2 separate regions of the Homo sapiens genome follow, and region 2 is linked to region 1. The links come from fine-mapping of genetic effects on gene expression. A gene starts in region 1. The other region holds a variant in brackets. All regions are shown on one strand. Distances are from middle to middle. Region 1 holds the start of BBIP1 (BBSome interacting protein 1). Region 2 overlaps SHOC2 (SHOC2 leucine rich repeat scaffold protein).

Region 1 (4,531 bases):
CTGGGATTTCAATATTGTTTTATATGTTGGCTTTATATTAAATTTCAGACATTTGAAAGTTACAAACCTTAGACAAAACTTTTATTCAGTTTTGTGTTTATTTTTGTCTATTTTTCAAATGTGTATTTATAATTACATAAAAAGTTTACAATATACTTTATGTCCAAATAAAGACAAAAGGCTTATCATACTCAGTCTAAGTTCCATATGTGGCGAATGGTCATTTGCATACTTTATTCCTAAAATTCTTTTCACTGTCACACAGCAAAACATCAACACTTGATAAATTCAAATTATAAATATAACCTTACTGAATGTTACAAATTGGATGCAATAGCTAAGTCTCTTCAAGTACACAGTAACAGTTCTACAGTCCACAGCATGGAGGATGAGGGTAAAGATTAGTAAGTACACTAATAAATTGAGGTCTTTAAAATTAAAACTATTTTTCAGTGGTGTTGCTGCATTTAGTTACAAAAACACTTGGTTACACAAATGTACCTTAGGATTCTGAAAACCGTAACAAAAAGCTTTTGATATAGTAGTCCCTCTTGAGTAGAAACTAGACGCACTCGGTATCTAAGAAAAGTATACGAAATGGCACAGGTGTAAGCCTAGACACTGCTGGTAGTTATCACGCTGGAGGCAAATACTATACAGTCCACATCTGCAACCTAATTTTGCTTCAGCATCCCCAGAGACTTCGAAAATATTTCTTTGGGTAGGTTGCAAAACAGTGCTTCCTCTTTTATTCTCATCACCCCCATTACGATACAAAGCAACAGACAAGAAAAATCAAACTGCCAACTGTAAGGGCTTAAACACACACACAAAGCATCTTCTTTCTAGCTCCCGAATCGGTATTTATTCCACCTGTTTGTAAATCCATAATTCCACAATAACACAAACTGCCTGCTTAAAGAAAGGAAGGAAGAAAAGAAAAAGAAAGAAAAGAAATAAAGAGAAAGGCAAGTTAATGCTTTGGAGTCATTACTCTTCCACCTAGGCATGGGGGGAGGGGGATGGTACAAAAACAATGGATATTGAGGTGCTGGGGGAAAAATCGTCTTGCCCCAAAGCCTCTTGTGTTATGAGCCTGGGGAAGTCGGGGAAGAGTGAGACTACTTTTCCTCTCTCCCTAAAAGCTGTGCTATCACGGGGAGAGGTTGCCATCGGGCATGTTCTACGAGGCGGTCTCGAAGGGCTACAACTCGCTTCGCTAGGCAACACACCCAGAGCCGATCCAGCACTCTTCACTCAAGGGTTTTTAGGGAGAGGAGAACGGGAGAGCAAGGTGGACTCCAGGGAGGGGGCGAGAAGAGACCCCACCCTGTATGACCGCCGCTGCGCCCGGGCCCTCGCCAACGATTTACACGACTCGGGGCGCCCTGCGGACTGGGCCCGGGGGCCCAGGGAGCCGAGAGGAGAGAGACTGTCCGCCGGGGGCCCCCGGCCCGCGCCCTCGCGCCGGCTCGCCGTCGCCCAGGCGCTGTCCGGGCCGCCCGCCGCCGCCGCCGCAGGCCCGGCCCCGGCCGCTGTCACACCCGACCGCCTTCCTCTCCGCGCCGGGCTGCAGGCTCCCACGCGAGCCGGCTCCAAGGGCCCCGCACTCCCGGAGACAGCAACCAGGAAAGCGGCGGCGGCGGCGCCTCCCAGGGCCCCGGCCCCTCGGGCCTCGCCCCGGCGCTGCCGGCTCGCGCCTGTCAGGGCGCACGGGGCCTCCCCCTACCGACAGCCAGCCCGACTGCCCGACGGACAGGAAGGCAGGCAGGAAGAACCGACCAACAGACACCCTCCGCCTCATCGGCCCCGAGTTACCGTCAGGAGCCCCGACTCCGCCATCCTCCTCGCTCGCCCTCCTTCCTCCTCTTCCTCCTCCTCCTAAGAAGCGACGCTGCCCAACCGCCGCCCCCCGCCCGCCCCTCCCCCACTCGCCCCGCCCCGCCCGCCCCGCCACTACTCTCGCTCCAGCCTCCCCGCCCCACCCCTCTGCCGTGGGCCCGTCACTCGCTAGGCAAGAAAAATGGGCGGAACCGGGGCAAGAGAAGCTGCCCAATCAGAGACGGGCAGTGCCGCCAGCTTCTCTCTCTCCGCCCTTGTCCTTTCCTCAGTTCCTCTACGCCGTCTCCCGCCCACTGGGCGCCTCTGGCTAGCCGGGCTACAGAGTAAGCCTCCAGCAGGGTAGAGTGACAACTCCCCGATCGGAAGTTACTGTTGAAGCTAAGGCGGCCATAACTGATAATGGCAAAAGGAGATTCCTGGCTTCCTGTTTCCAGGGTGACGTAGATTTTTTTCCTTCGCCAGTCTCACCGTTACCCGGGGCAACAGCTGAGCCGTCTGGGAAGGGATGCATCTGTAAGTAAGCCCAAAGAGGTACCGTGGGTGACCACACATCCCATGTTAGACAAGTTAATTCATACTCCGGATTACACGTCCAGTTTCCTGGCCCTTATTTTACTGAGACGTCTGGTCACTTACGGAGATGGACAACAGTTTAGGGCTCCGAAATTCCCTCTCCTGCCCGGAAGTTGCATTTGGCACTTCCGAATTGGGTCATGGCGGAAGGGTGTTAATAGCCTGGCCGCCCGTGCCCCAGGGAATGCTTATTTTTGACCTTAGTTGCAAAGTGAGGTGAGTCCGTGGACCCCAACCAGTGGGCCGGACCCGGGCCGGACGGTCCCTGTGGGACAGAGCGCTGAAATGGCGAGCGGGGCTCAGGGCCGCTTCCGTTGGAAGGCGGTTTTTTTCCGGGCTGGCCTGGCGGCGGCCCGCCCCCGTGAGGCTCCCTGTGGGGTGAGGCCGCTCTACAGGCCGCCCTAACCCAGCCAGAGGCAGCCCGGCCGGGAGGACCCCAGCGGGGAATGGGCGGGGACCTCGGGGCGGAGCTCCTAACTCCGGCAAAACGGAGCTCTTGACCACGCCTCCGCAAGTTCCTATTAAGTACTTTCACTCCTTGGCCTTTGGAGGGAGGAGAATTCGGGAACTTCAGAAAATCATTTTCCACCTTCACCTATAAAAGGAAAAGATGAGCCCCTACCACCAGGGCAGGACCTCAATCTTTTTCCCCTGCCACCTGCCTTCCCATTCTGATTTTTCCCCCCTTTCCGCGTCTCTCCTTTGAGTCTTTGTAAGCTTTGACTGCGGTTCTGGTGGTGGGATTCCTGCAGGTCTACAGTTTCTTAAACAACGTGTTGAAGATTTTTGAAAATACTGTATTGCTTTTATATGGCCCTTTACAAAGTTATCATACATTATCTTGTAGTTTCTTCTGTATGCTTGAGTCAAGAACTCTAAGTCATCTTGGTAATACCGGGTTGGATGCTTAAAGCTGCAGCAAAAAGACCAGAACTTTCAGGTAAAATTGAAAATGGTTAATATCCAGCCAGTCAACAATACAGATGCAAACCTACCTTCTCGACTTAATTTCTGCTTCCTTAGTACTTACACGCCAGCCAAAATGAACTACTCTTGTTTCTTTGCTGTTAATTACTGAAATCTGTTGTAGCAGTCACCTTTTGTGATTCTGTATCTGATTCTGTTACCCGTGGAGATGTGTTTCCAGATTCTTCCCAGCAGGAAGTAATTTCCTCTGAGTTTAGCATTTTTTGTACATCTTTTATGACAATCAGTATGTTATATATATATAATAGCGCTTATGTTTTTAGCTTCACTACCATGTCTGCACCTAAATAGAATGGTTTGTATCAGATTCGTCTTCCCGTCATTTTCACCATGCACATGATATTATTTTGGTAAATACTTACTGAAAGTTTGAATATATCGGGTGTCTCTTGGATGCCCAAGACACTTCCAGCCAAGTTTTAGAGACCTTCAATTTATCAGAAATTCAGCTGAGCGCCTGCTACTCAATCTTTGTTTTACGTTTCCCCTGTGAAGTCTTTCTGACATGATTTTTTTCCCCAGTGTTTTATTATGAAAGTGTTCATATATTTAAAAGCTGAAAGAAATAATTTAATGAATATTCATGTACCCATCATCTATATGCAGCAGTTAACATTTTGCCATTTTTTTTCATTCCTCCCCACTTTTTCATTGTCATAAAAAGTTGCAGACACTTATTGTTAGGCAAGACACCCTTAAGATTTCCAGCATGAATTTCCTAAGAATTTTGAAGTTCTCCAGCAAAACACAATATCATTATTTCAGCTGTTTTGTAACTTTTAAAATCTAGGCCAAGTGCTAATTTTCCTAATTTACCCAGGAATATCTTTTATACCTTCTCCTTCCCAATCCTGCAAAAAAAAAAAAAAAAAAAAAAAATCAGGATCCAGTCAAAATTTTTCTTTAGCTTTAATGTAGTAGAGTTCCCCCATCTTTTTTCCCCCTGTGACATTGGCATTTTGAAGAGTTCAAGGCAGGAGTCTTTTTGGAAATGGGCCCCTCTTTTTTCTTCTTGTAAACCAGAAGTTAGTCTAGAGGCTTAAGCTGAACATTTTTTTTGCAAGGATATGTCACAGTATTCACACTTTTCTAGTCATGACTAAGCCTTCTCAAACGCAGCTATACGCAC
Region 2 (4,000 bases), 90 kb before region 1:
ATTTCTTATGTGCAAAATATTTGTTACTTAATATGAACCTTTCACTAAGAGTTATCACATATATGGCAGTAAGCCAAAAACTGACTTATGTAGACCTTTAAAAATTTTTTCTTAGGATACTTGTATTCTCTAGGAAAATGTCTCAAGCAATTAAATGAGATCAGGTGAATAAATATACTAGAAATATAGGTGTAAATTTGCCTCATGTGTTTCCAATTTTTAAATTTCAAAATTCAGAATATTTCACAGTGGCATTTATTAGAAAATAACAGAAATAATAGCTAGTATGTAATCAATTTGTTTACATGTAAGATATTATTTAAGCTTCAGAACAACCTTGTGAGAACTTCCTATTATCATCTTTATTTTACAGGTAAGAAACTTGAGGCTTAGGGAGTTTACATACCTTACCTAAAGTCACAAAGCCAATAAGCAGCAGGGCTAGATTTTGAATTGTCAATTATCTCCAAAACCATTTTTTTTTATTATACTTTAAGTTCTAGGGTACATGTACACAACGTGCAGGTTTGTTACATATGTATACATGTGCCATGGTGGTGTGCTGCACCCGTTAACTAGTCATTTACATTAGGTATATCTCCTAATGCTATCCTTCCCCCCTCCCGCTACCCCACGACAGGCCCCGGTGTGTGATGTTCCCCACCCTGTATCCAAGTGTTCTCATTGTTCAATTCCCACCTATGAGGAGAACATGCGGTGTTTACTAACCTATAGTTCCTGTGGGACAGTGCACTATAGATGGGAAAACATTAATGCATAGAATTACTAATTTAAAAGCTAACATTTAATTACCTTAATCAAGTAATTCTCTTTATAAAGCAAGATTACAACTTGCACTGTCTAAAATTCCAGGTGGTCATGTATATTACATAAAATAATGGAAATGAAAACACCTGGAAAATGTTAAGTATTCCCAAATGTTAATATTGGTTAAATATTAATATTAATTCTAAAATCTCATAAATGTTCTTTTGGCATAAAACATTACTAATTCAAGCCTGTGTAATTTTAAATTTAGAAGGAATATAAAATAACTTCTAAAATGAGGTTATACATAAAACCTATTGGAAATGTAAGTATTCCAAAACATTCTCAAATACAGTACTAATTTTAAAACCAATCCTAACAGCCTTTAGGAAACCTAACCAAAACCAATCAACAATCAACCATCGGTGCTCTATTAAAAAAAAAAATCTTAAGCCTGATATAACCTCAGTTTAAAAAACAATAGATTTGTCATATTTATCTGAAATATTGCTTGAATGCACAAGAGCAAATTATTAGTACAGAGTCAAGCATTCACAGGGTTCATACCAATTTCTTCAGGAAGGTGAGTAAGTAGGTTCTCTCCAAGGCCCAGATGTGTGAGATTAGTAAGGTGACCAATGCCTCTGGGAAGAGTGGTCAACTGGTTGTTTGTCAAGACTAATTTCTAAAAGATTTACAAAATAAAAGAGAGTTACAAATATATTTCCTACATTTAATGTAAACTGAAAATAATATGTCTAAACAATAAAATAAATTAACAGGGAAACCAGATTGGATAGAATGAGAATCACTTACATTACATATTTTTCTTTCACAAAATACCATTTGTTAGGAAAACAAAGCCAGGTTATATGAACATAAAACTCAGCCCTAATACTAGAATAGGAAAGTCTATCTGATCCAAGAATTACATCAAAATCTTAAGAGAAATGTGGAATTTGGAACAGATTCCAAAAACTTTATAAAACTACAAAATCAGCATAATGTTTACCTGTAAATCCTTAAGATATGCAATTTCATTTGGCAAGGATTCCAATTTGTTCTCTTCTAGATCCAACTCTCTTAACTTCCTAAGGTTTCCAAGACCATGGGGAAGCTTCTTTAGAAGATTGTTTGATAAGATAAGAACCTAATGAGAAATTATTGATAATGTTTAGGAAATCATGAAATGAAATTATATACTGTCATTGTGTGGCTTAAAATCTATTAAGCAATGCTAATTTTCCAAACAGTGAATATTAAGGGTGATGTTCAATTATATAACATATAAAATATTTAACTTACTTTTCTAAAAAAACA[C/T]CATAGTTATTAGAAAAGAGATTTTATTTGATTATATCAAAACTAATGAAAACAAAAGAAGCAATTTAATTTTAATGAAATTTCAAAAAAATGCTCAATAGTTACAAATGTTTATCTAATAGGAAACTATTTATTCAAAATCCCTTACAAACCATTACTTAAGGAAGGTAAAAGCTACCTTCTAAACTTGCTATATCAATCCACTCTATTTATTATCTGTGGTGTTCTTATTACACTGAAAGCATCCTGGAAGATACTGAAGGGGGTTAAAATGGCAGAGAAGATAGCCTTTGTTCCGATAAAGTTACAAACTAGCAGAAAGGTAAGGAGACAATACTGGGTTGGGAGAAAGAGCAATAGGTAAAACAGATACGTAAGGTTCTGGGTAAGTTTTTATGTTCATTTATTTTCCCTAATGTTACACCACCCATAATAAATATATACAGTAAGATGGAGAAAATAATTACAGCAGTCACCACTTGATTTTACTATTTGCAAGGCACTGTACTGAATGCATTATGTGCATTATTGCATTTAATCCTAACTACAACTCTACAAGGTAGATACTCTTATTATCCCCATTTCACAGCTTAAGAAACTGAAGCTTGGGCAAGTTAAGTACATAAATATACAGAGATAATTACACTCAGCTTTGTTTGACTTCAAAGCCCATGTTTTTAGCCATTAAACCATACTATTTCACCTTATTAAATAATTTAAAAATTAGACCTTTAAAAAACATGGATATGAAGGAAATTTTAAAAAGCAATATATTTACTATTAGTAAGCATTTTCATCAAAGGGATGAAAACTCTAGGAACTCAGAAGCAGGAGAAATCATCCTTAACTGAAGAGGTGAAAATAAGATGGATCTTTAATTATGGAAAAACATACTAAAAGAAAAAAACTAAGGGGATGAGAAGAGGGCATTCTAGATACAGAAAACAATAGGACTAAAATTAGAGGGCTAGAAATAGGCATACCAGATTTACAACAAAGACAATAATCAATGAGTAAATAAAATAGCAGGTCGGTAATTAGGATGAAAAAGTATGATAAAGCATTCTAAATGACAGTCTGAGAATCGATAATTATTTTGGTAGACAATGGTGTAGTTTTTAAACAGAATAAAGAAAAAAATTGTTCTAAAAGATGCTTTTACAGAACTTTTCTTTTAGAGATATTAATACTTTATGGCACTCAAAGACACCAACTTGTAGTAGGCAAGAGAAATTCAAAAGCACTGAATCTAGACTACCTAAGTCAACACTTCATTATCCTATTAGGGTTGTATGTTTAAGTGAGTTCTAACATTTCTAATTATGACATTCACCCAAATAGAAATTGCTTATTTAAATTTGAAATTTTTAAATGAGATACGTATGGAAGGTTCTGAAGTTCTCTAATTGCTCATTTATACTAACCTCAAGAGAAACGAGACCAGACACATCCTCAGGGATCTTTGTGAGCTGATTAGTGGCTAAATTCAATTCTACCATACTGGTCCAAGTTCCAAAATCCAAGGGAAGTGATGTTAACTGATTGTCCTGGCAAAGACAAAAAGAAGCATCCAAGGTAGAATCACAAAAACAAAGTTCTATATATACCTGTCACTTCGGAAAGAGAATTCTTAATTAAACAAAATCTTATTCCCCTTTTTGATATTTAAATATAGAAAGAAAAAAAATCAGCAACAGAAAACTCTAAGCCTCCAAAGTTTTTTATACAGTAATGAGGCTTTTATTTGGGAGTTAAACTGGAAGTTTGTTCCTTATGTGATTATAATGGAAATAGAAAAACACAGTATACAGAGAAACACTGGAGATTTCAAAGATCCTATGATAAATATGATGTTTTTACAATTTCACAATATGCAGAAATCACTGAATAAAATATAAATGCTCAAATAAAG

The links. PIP is the estimated chance that this variant, and not a neighbour inherited with it, causes the effect. A credible set is the group of variants that fine-mapping cannot tell apart.
Region 2: its variant is the best candidate, but not a certain one, in a credible set for the expression of BBIP1 in whole blood (TOPMed, PIP 0.50).

Annotation. Positions count from the first base shown.
Region 1 is chr10:110,916,945-110,921,475 of GRCh38, reverse strand. It overlaps BBIP1 (BBSome interacting protein 1), which reads left to right and starts at 2,296. Exons shown (of 4, transcript NM_001195305.3): 1 at 2,296-2,355; 2 at 3,263-3,355. The coding sequence starts at 3,319. SHOC2 (SHOC2 leucine rich repeat scaffold protein) reads right to left here and starts at 1,872. Exons shown (of 9, transcript NM_007373.4): 1 at 1,819-1,872. RefSeq lists silencers at 1,413-1,502, 1,513-1,952, 2,803-2,962 and enhancers at 2,173-2,222, 2,243-2,442, 2,132-2,671.
Region 2 is chr10:111,007,166-111,011,165 of GRCh38, reverse strand. SHOC2 (SHOC2 leucine rich repeat scaffold protein) reads right to left here. Exons shown (of 9, transcript NM_007373.4): 6 at 3,513-3,635; 7 at 1,781-1,918; 8 at 1,336-1,453. Among named protein-coding and RNA genes, the nearest start is that of MIR548E, 20 kb to the right of the region's middle. The variant C/T (reference allele first, on the strand shown) is at 2,089.